Homo sapiens: one gene and its partners. The protein of the gene in region 1 purifies or fractionates together with the protein of each later gene. This does not show direct contact. Each region holds a gene or a part of one and is shown on either strand. Other genes may lie near its edges.

Region 1 (3,579 bases):
AGCAGAAAGATCCTTTTCTGCTACATAGGCAGGAGGTCCAGACACAGGGGAGTGGGTGCAACCCAGCTGGTCCCATTTTCTGTAATATAATTAACAATGAAGCTCATACTTTCTCAACTTCTAGAAGCCTGGAGGATGGAAGCAGCCCGAGAGTAGGGTGAATGATGGCCTCAGTGGGCCCTTCTTAATGTGTCTCAGTACTGAATGTGTGGAGATTGTAGAAAAATAGAAGGCCCTTGGAAAAAACCTCTGTTCGTTTCTCTGTTCGTTTCGCTCCCTGATCTCCCTGCCGGATTGCTTTTCTTTCCTTTCTCTTCCTTGGCTGTCCTTTACCTCATGGTGTGGGGTGTGCAGATAGCAGGTTGTGGCTTGGTGAGTGCTCTTCACTTCAGGTCAAGGTGAGGCACAGTTAACATGCTAACTACTTTCCTCAGTTCTCTCTGAGTTGTGTAAAGCTCCCGATGCCAGACTTCCTCTTAATTTTGCACATTATTAAAGTCCAAAGAGTTAAGATTTGGTGATGAGGGGCAAAGGGCCAGCTGTCACAGAAATCAATGAAATGATACACAGAAATGGGTATCATGAAAAGGCCACTGGACTTGGGAAAACTGGGTGCCTGTCCTTGCCCTGCCATGTACTTACCTGTGTGACTGGAGGTGAGATGTTTTACCTATGGGCCTCAGTTTCTCATTACAAAATGACAGAGAAGACTAGATACCTAAGTTCCTAAGTTTGTGACATTTGTGAATTTTTCTTGGCCCTCTGTGAGTAGAGTGCTAAATTTAGAGGCTTCCTGTGGTTGAACTGATGTCCAATTCTCAGGGAACCCAGACTTCTCAGTTCAGAACCCAGTTCCAGATTTTTGTGGGAATAGGGAAAGGTATTAAATAACTCCATTGAATTCTTTCCTGCATAATGCCCTGCTGTGGCTGAGACTCAATGAGGTCATCACCTCCAACACACAGAACCCCTCATCATCTCCTTACAGCCAGACTGGAGCTTCCAAGGACATCAGGTTGGCAAGGATTGTGAGTACCCTAAACATCTAAAGAGGCCCTCTAATAAGGGACATATTTGTTCTTCAACAGTTTCCTAACTTGAGACCACAAATGCGTAATCTCTCTAATATCCTAAAGCTTGGACAAACTGGGCAGCCCCTGAGCAGACCGCACAGAGCTTAAATGTCAGTGCTTTCCTTCCAGAAAGAAAAAGAATGGTCCTACACCTCCCAATCCATGGGCTGATACATATGCCAAGGGAGCCGGATGAAGAAGTGGGTGATTTTAAATAGCTAAGACTGCCCATGGGCAAACGTTCTTTGGCTTTTCTCCTCTGCAATAAGTATACCTTCCTCTCTCCTGGTCCTTTTCTCCTTTCCCAGGCCCCTCTATCAATAATAATTCTGGCTCTCAGATGACTACAGTTGATTAGGTGGAACTGATAGGATAAAGGTGACACCCTTCCCAAGGCTATCTATAATGCAAAAAGATATCCAAGAAAAAGAGAGGTAGGGAACACCTTGGGAAACCATTTCTGGAAGACAGCCAGTCCCTGCTGTAGACAAGCCTCATTTTCCTTCCCCCAAATGTTAAAGAGTAAATTCCTCCTGTAGCCTTAGCTCTCTTTTCTATCTTTGGCTTGCTTTTTATGAACTATCTTTAGAGTGCCAAATTAGAACAGGGTAGGCAGAGGCAGGAATATGCCCAAATTTGGGAAGACCTGGTTGGGAATAGTCGAAAGCCTTGATATGTGCAAAGAAAGAACCATTTGATCAACCCAGTTCTTAATACAGGATACTAACTTAAAATTTAGACTCAAGTTATACGATAATTCAAACATTTATTGTATTTATACTATTCTATATGTACTTTTCCAGGAACCAGGAATACAAAACTGACATTTCTCTGTACAGAGGCTCAGACTAGTAGAGAACAGTTAGGTACGCCGTTAATTATAAACTAATATGTATCATCAATTATGGGTTTTTATGGGGGTTTGGCAGGTGGAAGGGACCAGGGAGAGATGATGAGTGATGATGGTTATGTAGTCTTTAGGAGGATGCAATTATAACATTGCTCTTCCTTTCACGCACCACATGATTTAGCAAGTACTTCATATTGGCTCCACCATTAACATGGTCAATGGCTTCTGGATACTCACAGTTCAGGCACAGTTTCTCCTGAAGATTTTTTACCTCTCCCATCTTTAAGAAATTGTCTGGATGTCCATGAAAGATGCTGACACTTGTATTAATTCATTAAAAAACACCACCCCCTCCCTGAAATAAACTAAAAAGTAATGAATTCATAGAAAAAAATTTCACCAAGATTGAAACTAGAGAATATACCTAGACTTGCACTTTGAGCTTTGAGAAATGTGTACCTATTCACCATTCCAACGTGAAGAAGCTCTGCAGTAGGAAAAATAATTAACACACTTATAGTCTACTGCCCATGTAAGGATCAGCTCCGGCTAAGAGGCCAAAGATGGGTGACATCGTTATGCTCTGCCTTTATTTTTTCTTTCTTACCCACTTAGCTTCCTAATTGGAGGAAGGAGGCGTGGTAAAGGTATATGAAGACTATGGTTTAATTAGACCAGAAAACACTGTCATAATCTCTGGGGTCATCAGAATGTCCAGTTTTGTCTTTGGGCCAAGATAAGGGCAGTGGGATTTATGATGTGTTGTTTATAGTCTGAAACTACTCTGGTGATCACCAGGGTCAGTTTCTTTAATGATGGTTTCCAACTGGCCTAATACATTAAGTAAGACTGGCTGATAACATGACCAGACAGACATAAAGACCCTGTTGGGAATGACATTGAACTCTCAAAGTCAAGATTTCTTACACAAATCTATCAGCTGGAGAAAATGAAGGCAGTGTGGTATATGTGTGCAAATAAGGACATTATGAAGCTTAAATATGGAATGTCTCTTGGACCCCCGATGTCATCTGTATTCTCTTTTTCTTCTTGTACTATATCCTTTGCCTGTAAATAAAAGGTTTATTTGATTATGCTGTGTGGAGTCTGGTTTTGCAGGGCAGAATATATATATTAACATATATACAAAATATTAAATCTAAAATGTTAAAATAGTTTATATTGTACGTTAAACGTATAAGACATAAATATAAAACATACAAAATATTATATAGTATTTATAAGTATAAAATATAAAAAATTCTAATTACCAATTTCACAGCTTTAGAGAAAAGTTGTGTGCTGCTTTCAAGGAACTTCACTTAACCAGATTTCTCACCAAATTAGGGGGCTTAATCTAAAACAAGAGAAGAAACTAAAATTCAACTGATACTCCCTCCTCACAAACAGGAGACAGTAGTAATTGTATCTGTGTGGAACTGGCTCTCAAAGCAGGAGTTTCAAGCAATGTAGAGGAAAAGCACACACCCACAAAATTCCCTCATTGCAATTTTCTATGGCTCCTGCCTTCCTTCCACATCCTTGAAGTAGCTTCCAGCCCTTTAGAATAAGTTAAAGATGGCATTCAAACATTGGTCAGGAAAAGAGGGATTAGGTAAGGAAGATTCTATCTATGCTATTTTTTTCTGGCAAATA
Region 2 (3,655 bases), on another chromosome or scaffold:
TCTCAAGATGACCTTGGTGGGTATGTAGATAAAGATGATCTAGCTCAATAGTCCTGTAATTACTTTTATACTAACCTTGTATTTATGATGAAAGACACTGTTATCTGTGTATGATCATGATATAAGGTATTATTTTAAAATACATTTATTATTTGAGTCAAACACAAAAGTCTATTTGGGAAAATGCTAAACAAATAATACAGATGGGATATGAACTTGCCAGAAACTATATAAAAGAAACCTGCAGAAATTGCAAATGAGCTGGAGTCTCTGAAACACACTGGGTGAGAAGGGCAGGGTTTCAGGAAACCTACCCTCTAAGCCCAGATCTGGCCCCAGTGCACGGGAGGACCTCAAGCCAGTCACTTCCCTCTCTGGCCTCAATCTCCCCACCTGTAACATGAAAGAGCAGGGCTAGAATATTCATAAGGTCTCTCCCAGCTCTGACATGCCATGACCAACTTAACAACAAATTAGTTGCTGAAAAACCTTGCAGGATTCCCTTGTGGTGATTTTCCACTGTAGAATCTTTCTCCCTGGGGAAAGGATGGTCATGATCCCAGGCAGGGCAGGAGCAGAGAGACTGGAAGGCCTCTCCCTACCCTCACAGGAGCCCTCATGCCCAGGCCTGTGCTTACTGCTGCTGGCTGATGCTTCTCTACTTCCCTGTTTTACGTCCCTCCTTTTGTGCAGGACCCCTCAGCAGAGAGCAACAGGAGCAGAAACAGCAACACCCTCTCCTGCCCCAAGAATAATGATAGAGGAATAAGTTCCTCTTTGTCTCCACTTAACATTTAAAAGGCTTCCTAGACTGGCTCACAGACAACCCTTGCCATCTCACCTAGGGATCTTATTAAAATGCAGCCTGTCAGGCCCAGCAACCAAGACTCTGACTCTAAGTGAAAAGGCCCAGGAATCTGCATTCTAACAAGCTCTCCCAAATGATTCTGATGTTGGTGGCCCAAGGAAGTGGTCCTTAGAGGAAGCTGAGACTCAATAAGGTGAAGTGGTTTCTTCCAAGCTACAGAGCCAGTACATGCAAGAGATGGGGCCAGGCTAGTTATCTGGGCTCCAAGGCTAGTGTAGTGCTCTACTGTCCTCATTTCTCATGGTAGGGACCAAGGTCCCCCCTGACATCTTCCCATTCCTGCAGGGACCTTCATGATCTATAGGTTGGACCCTCCCAGGTCTTAAAAGTCAATGGGAAAATCCAAGAGGACTTCTTTATCTGAAAAGATTCTACACCCAGCCTCCTGCTCTCTCCTCCAAGGAGAGGGAAGCCCTCCAAAACTCAGGACCCTCCAAAGTTAAGGGAGACCCAGTCAGGAGGAAGCCTCTTTATACTGAAAGCTCAGATCCTGGGAAGAGAGAGAGGGAGACCATCTTTGCATCTCTACCACTGATAATCCTTTGTGGGGAAATCATAGGCCCCAGGCGAAAGGTGATAGAAAATTGACAAGGAAGACAGACCACCCCAGTGGGTAAACCAGTATGGACTGCCTGGCCTGTGGGGAACCCAGGTATCTTCCCTTGCCTGCTCACCATCTATTCATTCAGTCAGTGACTAATCACTGAGTGCTTACTCTGGGCCAGGCTGGGGGCTGGGGAGGTGAAGGTGAATAAAACAAGATGCAGTGACTACTCACCTGGAGGGGGATGGAAGTCCCTGGCAGTGCCACCTTGGGGCAGTGCTGCCTTCTGCCCATCTTGTCTGATGGAGCTGGCCAGGGGCATGGTAGAATTCTTGGCATTTGAGAAGCATCCTGTAGCAAGGGACAGCAATGTTTTTCTGCAAAGGAACAGATGGTAATTTTAAGCTTTGATGGTCAGATGGTCTCTGTCACAATTACGCAACTCTTCTATCACAGCTGAAACTCATCTGTAGACAATGTGTAAATAAATGGGTAGGCTTATGTTCCAATAAAACTTTATATACAAAAACAGGGGTCAGGCCAGATTTGGCCCTCATGCTGCAGTTCATCAAGGACATGACCCTGACACATTAGTGTGGCACTCAAAGTCCTTCCCAGACTGGCCCTGTTCATCCCAGGCTCACCTCCCATCACACCCTCCCCGGCCCTGTCTACCTTCGAGGTGCAGGCAGCTCCTCTCCAAATTCCAAACCTTTCTTGCCCTTTAAATGCTTTGGTGTCTTTGCCATTTAGAAACCACTGCTCCTCCTGCCACCTCTTCCTCTTCTTTCCCCTCTTCCTCCCTGTATTAATTTTCTATGGCTGTTGTAACAAATTACCACAACCTGAGTGGCTTAAAACACAGAAATGTATTCTCCTACCATTCAGAAAGCCAGAAGTCTGAAATCCAGGTATTGGCAGAGATAGCTCCTTCTGGAGGCTCCAAGGGAAAATCTGATCCATGCCTCTCTCGTAGTTTCTGGTGGTTCCAGCAACCCTTATTCTTCTTTGACTTGTAGACGCATCACTCCACTTTGCCTCCATCTTCTCACAGCCTTGCCGTGTGTGTTTGTGTGTAATGTCCCTTTCTCTTATAAGGACACCTGTCATTGGATTTAGGGCCCACCCTAAATCAGCAATGATCTTATGCCCAGAGCCTTAATTATATCTACAAAGACTATTTGGAGCAAAATTCCTGGCAAAGACAGATCAACAACTGTCAGCTCCCAGTCGGAGAGAAAGGGCCTCTTCAGTGCTATCTCAGGAGACTGGGAGAAGCAGCAGAAAGGACCCCACAAGAAAGGGAGAGGTACCCTGGGTCAGGCGCCTCTGGAGAGAGGGTCCTTTTCCTTCCCTGTTCCTCACTTCTTTCTCCTCTCCTCCTCCCTCACTTCTCCCTCCTTTCCGTAGCCCTCCTCCTCCCCTGAACTACCTGAAATCAAAGACAGCTGCTCTGCTATGGGAACTGGGAGAGGCAGCCCTGGTTTGAGGCTGTGACTAAGGCCTGTGTGTATCTCATCACCTGGTGATTAACAGCTCTGGCTCTTACCCAGGTAGACCCAGGAGCTCCCATCAGAGCAGACGAGAACAGGGCAAAAGGATGTGGAGTTAAAAACAGGCACTTCCTCAAGAGAAGTGTGCTTTGGTCTTCCTCCAATGGACTCCATCTCTTAGTTCCTGGCACCAGAGCTATGGGGACCTTCCTACAGGGATACCTGGAGACTGGTTCTAGAATTGAGAACCTGGCTCAGTCTCAGGCCCTGTGGGAGCACAAGAAAGTACAAGGCATGGCCCCTACCTGCAAAAAAGAGCACGGTATTAGTGTGGGGTCCCCCAAAAAAGCAGACCCTAAAGAAAGGATCTGAGCACAAGTAGTTGATATGGGACATGCAAGGAAGTAGTGGAATAATACAAGGAAGGGGAGGCAATGAATAAAGCATGTGTTATTAAACCAGTGGCCCCTATGAGTAACTGAAGCTCAAATCCTTTGGGAAATGGAGCAAACATACTCCCTAGAATTATCCAAAGATTTGATCCCTAAAGACAAACCCTGGCAGTAAGAAGTAGATATGGAGCATGGAAAGGTCTGGGTGATACAAGCCAGCCACTGACAACATCAACTACAATCATAGGGCCCAGAATGTCAGAGCTAGGAGAAATCCAAATGGGCAGAGGAGGAGGCTTAAAACATTGGCTATAATTTAAGTTTGATTTATCCACTGTATTATTTATCCAGACAGGCA
Region 3 (3,655 bases), about 23 Mb from region 1:
TCAGTCCAACACTCTCATCAGAACCACCAGAACTTAAGACCGACGCCTGGGCCCTCCTCCAAGCAAATCAGAGCATTTTTGGTGGGTTCTGCTCCCTCCCCCAGCTACCATTTTCCCTGTCTTCCAAAGGAATAACCACTGATACTAGTTTTGTATATCATTGTAGACATTTTTTGTGGGCATTCAAGGAAATGCATATCTTTCCTCTTACTGTTTTACACAAATGGTAGCATACTGTACACTCTGTTTTCTTAAAAATGTCTTGGGAATCTTTCCACTTCAGTATATAGTTTCCTTATTTTTTTGAATGACTGTACAGTATTTCACTGTATGGATATACCATAGATTATTTAACCATTCCCCCACTGACAGACATTTAGATTGTTTCCAGTAATTTACCGTAAACAGTGCTACGAATATGCTGTTTCATATGTGAATAAATATATTTATAGGGTAAATTCCTAGAAATGGAATTGTTGGGTGAAATAAACACACAAACACATATATTTACATAAGTATATATTTATGTAATGCGTGTATATGTGTATATATTTGTAATTATTTGTGATTATAAAATATTCTGGTCATATTAGAATGCTTTGGAAGGAAACAAGATTGAGTGTGGGAGACAGCTGCCCCTAATTAAGGTTACTGTGGATAACATAGGAGAGAAAAGGTGGTGGCTGAGAGAAAAGAATGGTCGTATTGGAGATGGAGAGAAGTACATATATTCATGAGATATATTTAGGAGGCGTAATTGATAGGATTTGGTGGTTGATATGGTACAAGGGTTGAGAGGGAGAAATGAGATCCTAAGATGACTCCCAGGGTTCTAGCTTGCCCAACCAGTGAATGGTGGTGGTGTTACCTGAAGTAAAGAACATTTAAGGATAAATAGTTTTGAGATGAGTTTAAATCACAGTTTACATTGGGACTGCTGAGATTTTCAAGTGAGAGGTCACATAAGCATTTGACAATTCTAATTCAGAGCCAAGAGCAGAGGGCTAAACTGGAGGCACGAATTTTTAGGTGTAAATTAAAGGCTGTGGATGAAATTATCTAGGGCAGTGGTTGCAAAGCAGTAGCCTACAGCTGAATCTGACTCACAGATGTTTTGCCCATACAGTGGTTTTGTTATTGTTTAATTTTGAATTAGTTGCCAATATTTTAAAATCTGAAGATTTCTCATGAAAAATCCAGATTTGGGGTTTCTCTTTAAAAATGAGAAAATGTAGCACTACTGAGTTGGTTTTCCAATATGGCAGCAATAATTGGAGCTAAGTCACAGATGATCGCAGCTCTTCTATTTCACTACAGAGCCCACCACTCCCTAAAATTATGCCTGGCCCACTTTGCTCATTTATTTCTCTGACTGTAGGCTTTTGAGCATGTGATCCCTGGTCTGGGAAGAGAGCATAGAACAGTGTTCTCATCTTGGTTGCACATTGGAATCACTGAATGATTAAAAAATGCTAATGCTGTGGTCCACCTAAGAAATTTCTTTTTCTGTTTACTTGATCTGATTTGCTGCCTTGGACGAATCTGAGGTGATTCCACTTAGCTGTGGAAGTTGAGAACCACTGACAGAGATTAAGAAAAAAGGGCTCAGGCCCAGCATTTTGAAGTTTAGTAGAGGAGGATAGCCCAGGAAGAGAATGAGAAGTGGCCACAGAGGTACAGTGGAATGACGCCTTGCTCAGAATTAAAGTGTGCAAACTTAACTGAATGCGCTCTACCATGTTTTTTATTAAATGAGAGAGAGAAAAGTTTTATTTACTTGTATACAGGTGTGCGATATTTAACGGGCCATTTAAAGGATTTTCAAGAGTAATTTAAACAATATTTGGTTTTTGTCTTAGCTGTTTCCTTCACAATCTAATTCTAGTTTAAGATGCATCATAAAAGGTGAGAGAAGAATGTTTCAAATAGAGAGGTGTCATCAAGTAAAGATGTGGAACAAAAATGATCTGTTGAATTTAGCAAGATGGAGTCTTTGACCTCAGCAAGAACCATTTTAGATTGGAAGAGGCAGAAACCAAAATGAAGTGGGTAAAAAGTAAGGAAATGGGAGTGGCAAGTGTTGGAAATTCCTTTGAGAAGCTTGCCCAAAAAGAGGAAGTGGTGAGGGAGGATGAGGTGTCTTACATGCCTACAATGTAGGTGTTAGTCTGTTGGTTACTCAAACATTTCTCCTAACTTTTTAGGGATGTAGGTCAATGGTGTCTGATTACCCCTCTCCCACGTTCTTAGGGGTCTTGTTTTGGAGACTACTTTTTACTGAGAAGAAATTTTGCCAGGACTGTTGAAGGGGCTGACTCAGATGTTGGTGATTAGGCCACAAGTTTCTTTCTCAACTGGAAAGCTGTAGAGCTCCTAAAGGCCAGTGGTGATCTGGGCTCCAGTGACCCTGACATCATCCTCCCATTGAGCTGATGAACAAAGACTATATTGTTGGTATGCTGAAAATGGAATACTTGGCTATGTTAGGGAATGTGTATCTAACTGTGAGATTCCCAGGAATAGTTTTTGCAGCTGTATTTTTTCCAATTAACTTGATATTATAGCTTAATTTTCCAGTTGCATGCATGTAAAAACTCTCATACTTTGAAGTATTTATCATTGATGGTACCTGAGGGATATGGATGTAAGTTGGAGATGTAGGCCCTCATTGAGCTCAGAAAGAAGAAAGCACTGAGCAAACTGGTTTCCAAAAAGTTGTGTGAAGGCTTCTACCTCGAAGACTTGGTGTTAGAGTGACTATTTAGGATGGGTTGTAATGCAAATGGTCACAACCAGTTTGTCTTTTATCCATTTCTGCCACATTGGCAACCTTAACCTAGCAGAGAGGCTTTTAAGGTCAATTTTGTGCTTCATATTTCTAAGAGTTGTAGCCTGCCAACAGAACAGAAAATATAAGGGGTGGAAAATGCCAAGAATTATTGGTTAAGAATGGTTTTGATTAATTGAAGGCATAAACCTCATTGCTATACTCTTGAAAACAGGAATATCATCTTGTGAGGGACCAGACTTCATAGCTGTCATTGGTTTATCAGTTAGGTGGATGATGGTTAACTTCTGTATAAAGGATGACTTTGTGACATGAAAGCAGACCTTGGTCCAAGATGGTTTGTAATGTGAGTCCATTATAAGAAAATATCTTATTTAGAAACTTGTGTATGCTTGGACAGCTGTGGGAATTCCATCATCACAAATATGGTTAGGTACTATGCCTGGCTGGCAGTATATAGAGGCAAAAGTCCATTACCAAGGTGGTCCAGAGCTCCTTTGGTTTGTGGAGGAAACAGGATAGCTGAGTGGGGAGAGGACTTGGAGTCAGTTCCTGAGTATAGTTCCTGGATTTGTCAAGGGTGAACTGTGTGATTTTTTTTAATTGAGGTAAAATTAACCATTTTAAAGTGTACAAATCAGTTACTTCAGTATGTACATTCACAATGTTGTGCAGCCATCACCGCTAATTCTGGAACATTTTCATCACCCCAAAAGGAAACCCTGTACCCATTAAGCAGTCACTCGCCATTCCCCTTTACCCCTACCGTCTGGCACCCGCCAATTTGCTTTCTGTCTATATGGATTTGCCTGTTCTGAAGATTTCATATAAATGGAATCATACAATATGTAACCTTTTGTGCCTGGC

Evidence for each region.
Region 2: the proteins of CCDC80 (region 1) and ISX purify together in Homo sapiens (co-immunoprecipitation; one large-scale study listed by IntAct). This does not show direct contact.
Region 3: the proteins of CCDC80 (region 1) and PPP2R3A purify together in Homo sapiens (co-immunoprecipitation; one large-scale study listed by IntAct). This does not show direct contact.

Annotation. Positions count from the first base shown.
Region 1 is NC_000003.12:112,596,232-112,599,810, reverse strand, and holds the end of CCDC80 (coiled-coil domain-containing protein 80 precursor), read left to right. Parts: 3' UTR 1-3,014; downstream 3,015-3,579. UniProt on the Homo sapiens protein: Promotes cell adhesion and matrix assembly.
Region 2 is NC_000022.11:35,069,057-35,072,711, forward strand, and holds part of ISX (intestine-specific homeobox), read left to right. Parts: intron 1-3,655. UniProt on the Homo sapiens protein: Transcription factor that regulates gene expression in intestine. May participate in vitamin A metabolism most likely by regulating BCO1 expression in the intestine.
Region 3 is NC_000003.12:135,968,592-135,972,246, forward strand, and holds part of PPP2R3A (serine/threonine-protein phosphatase 2A regulatory subunit B'' subunit alpha), read left to right. Parts: intron 1-3,655. UniProt on the Homo sapiens protein: The B regulatory subunit might modulate substrate selectivity and catalytic activity, and might also direct the localization of the catalytic enzyme to a particular subcellular compartment.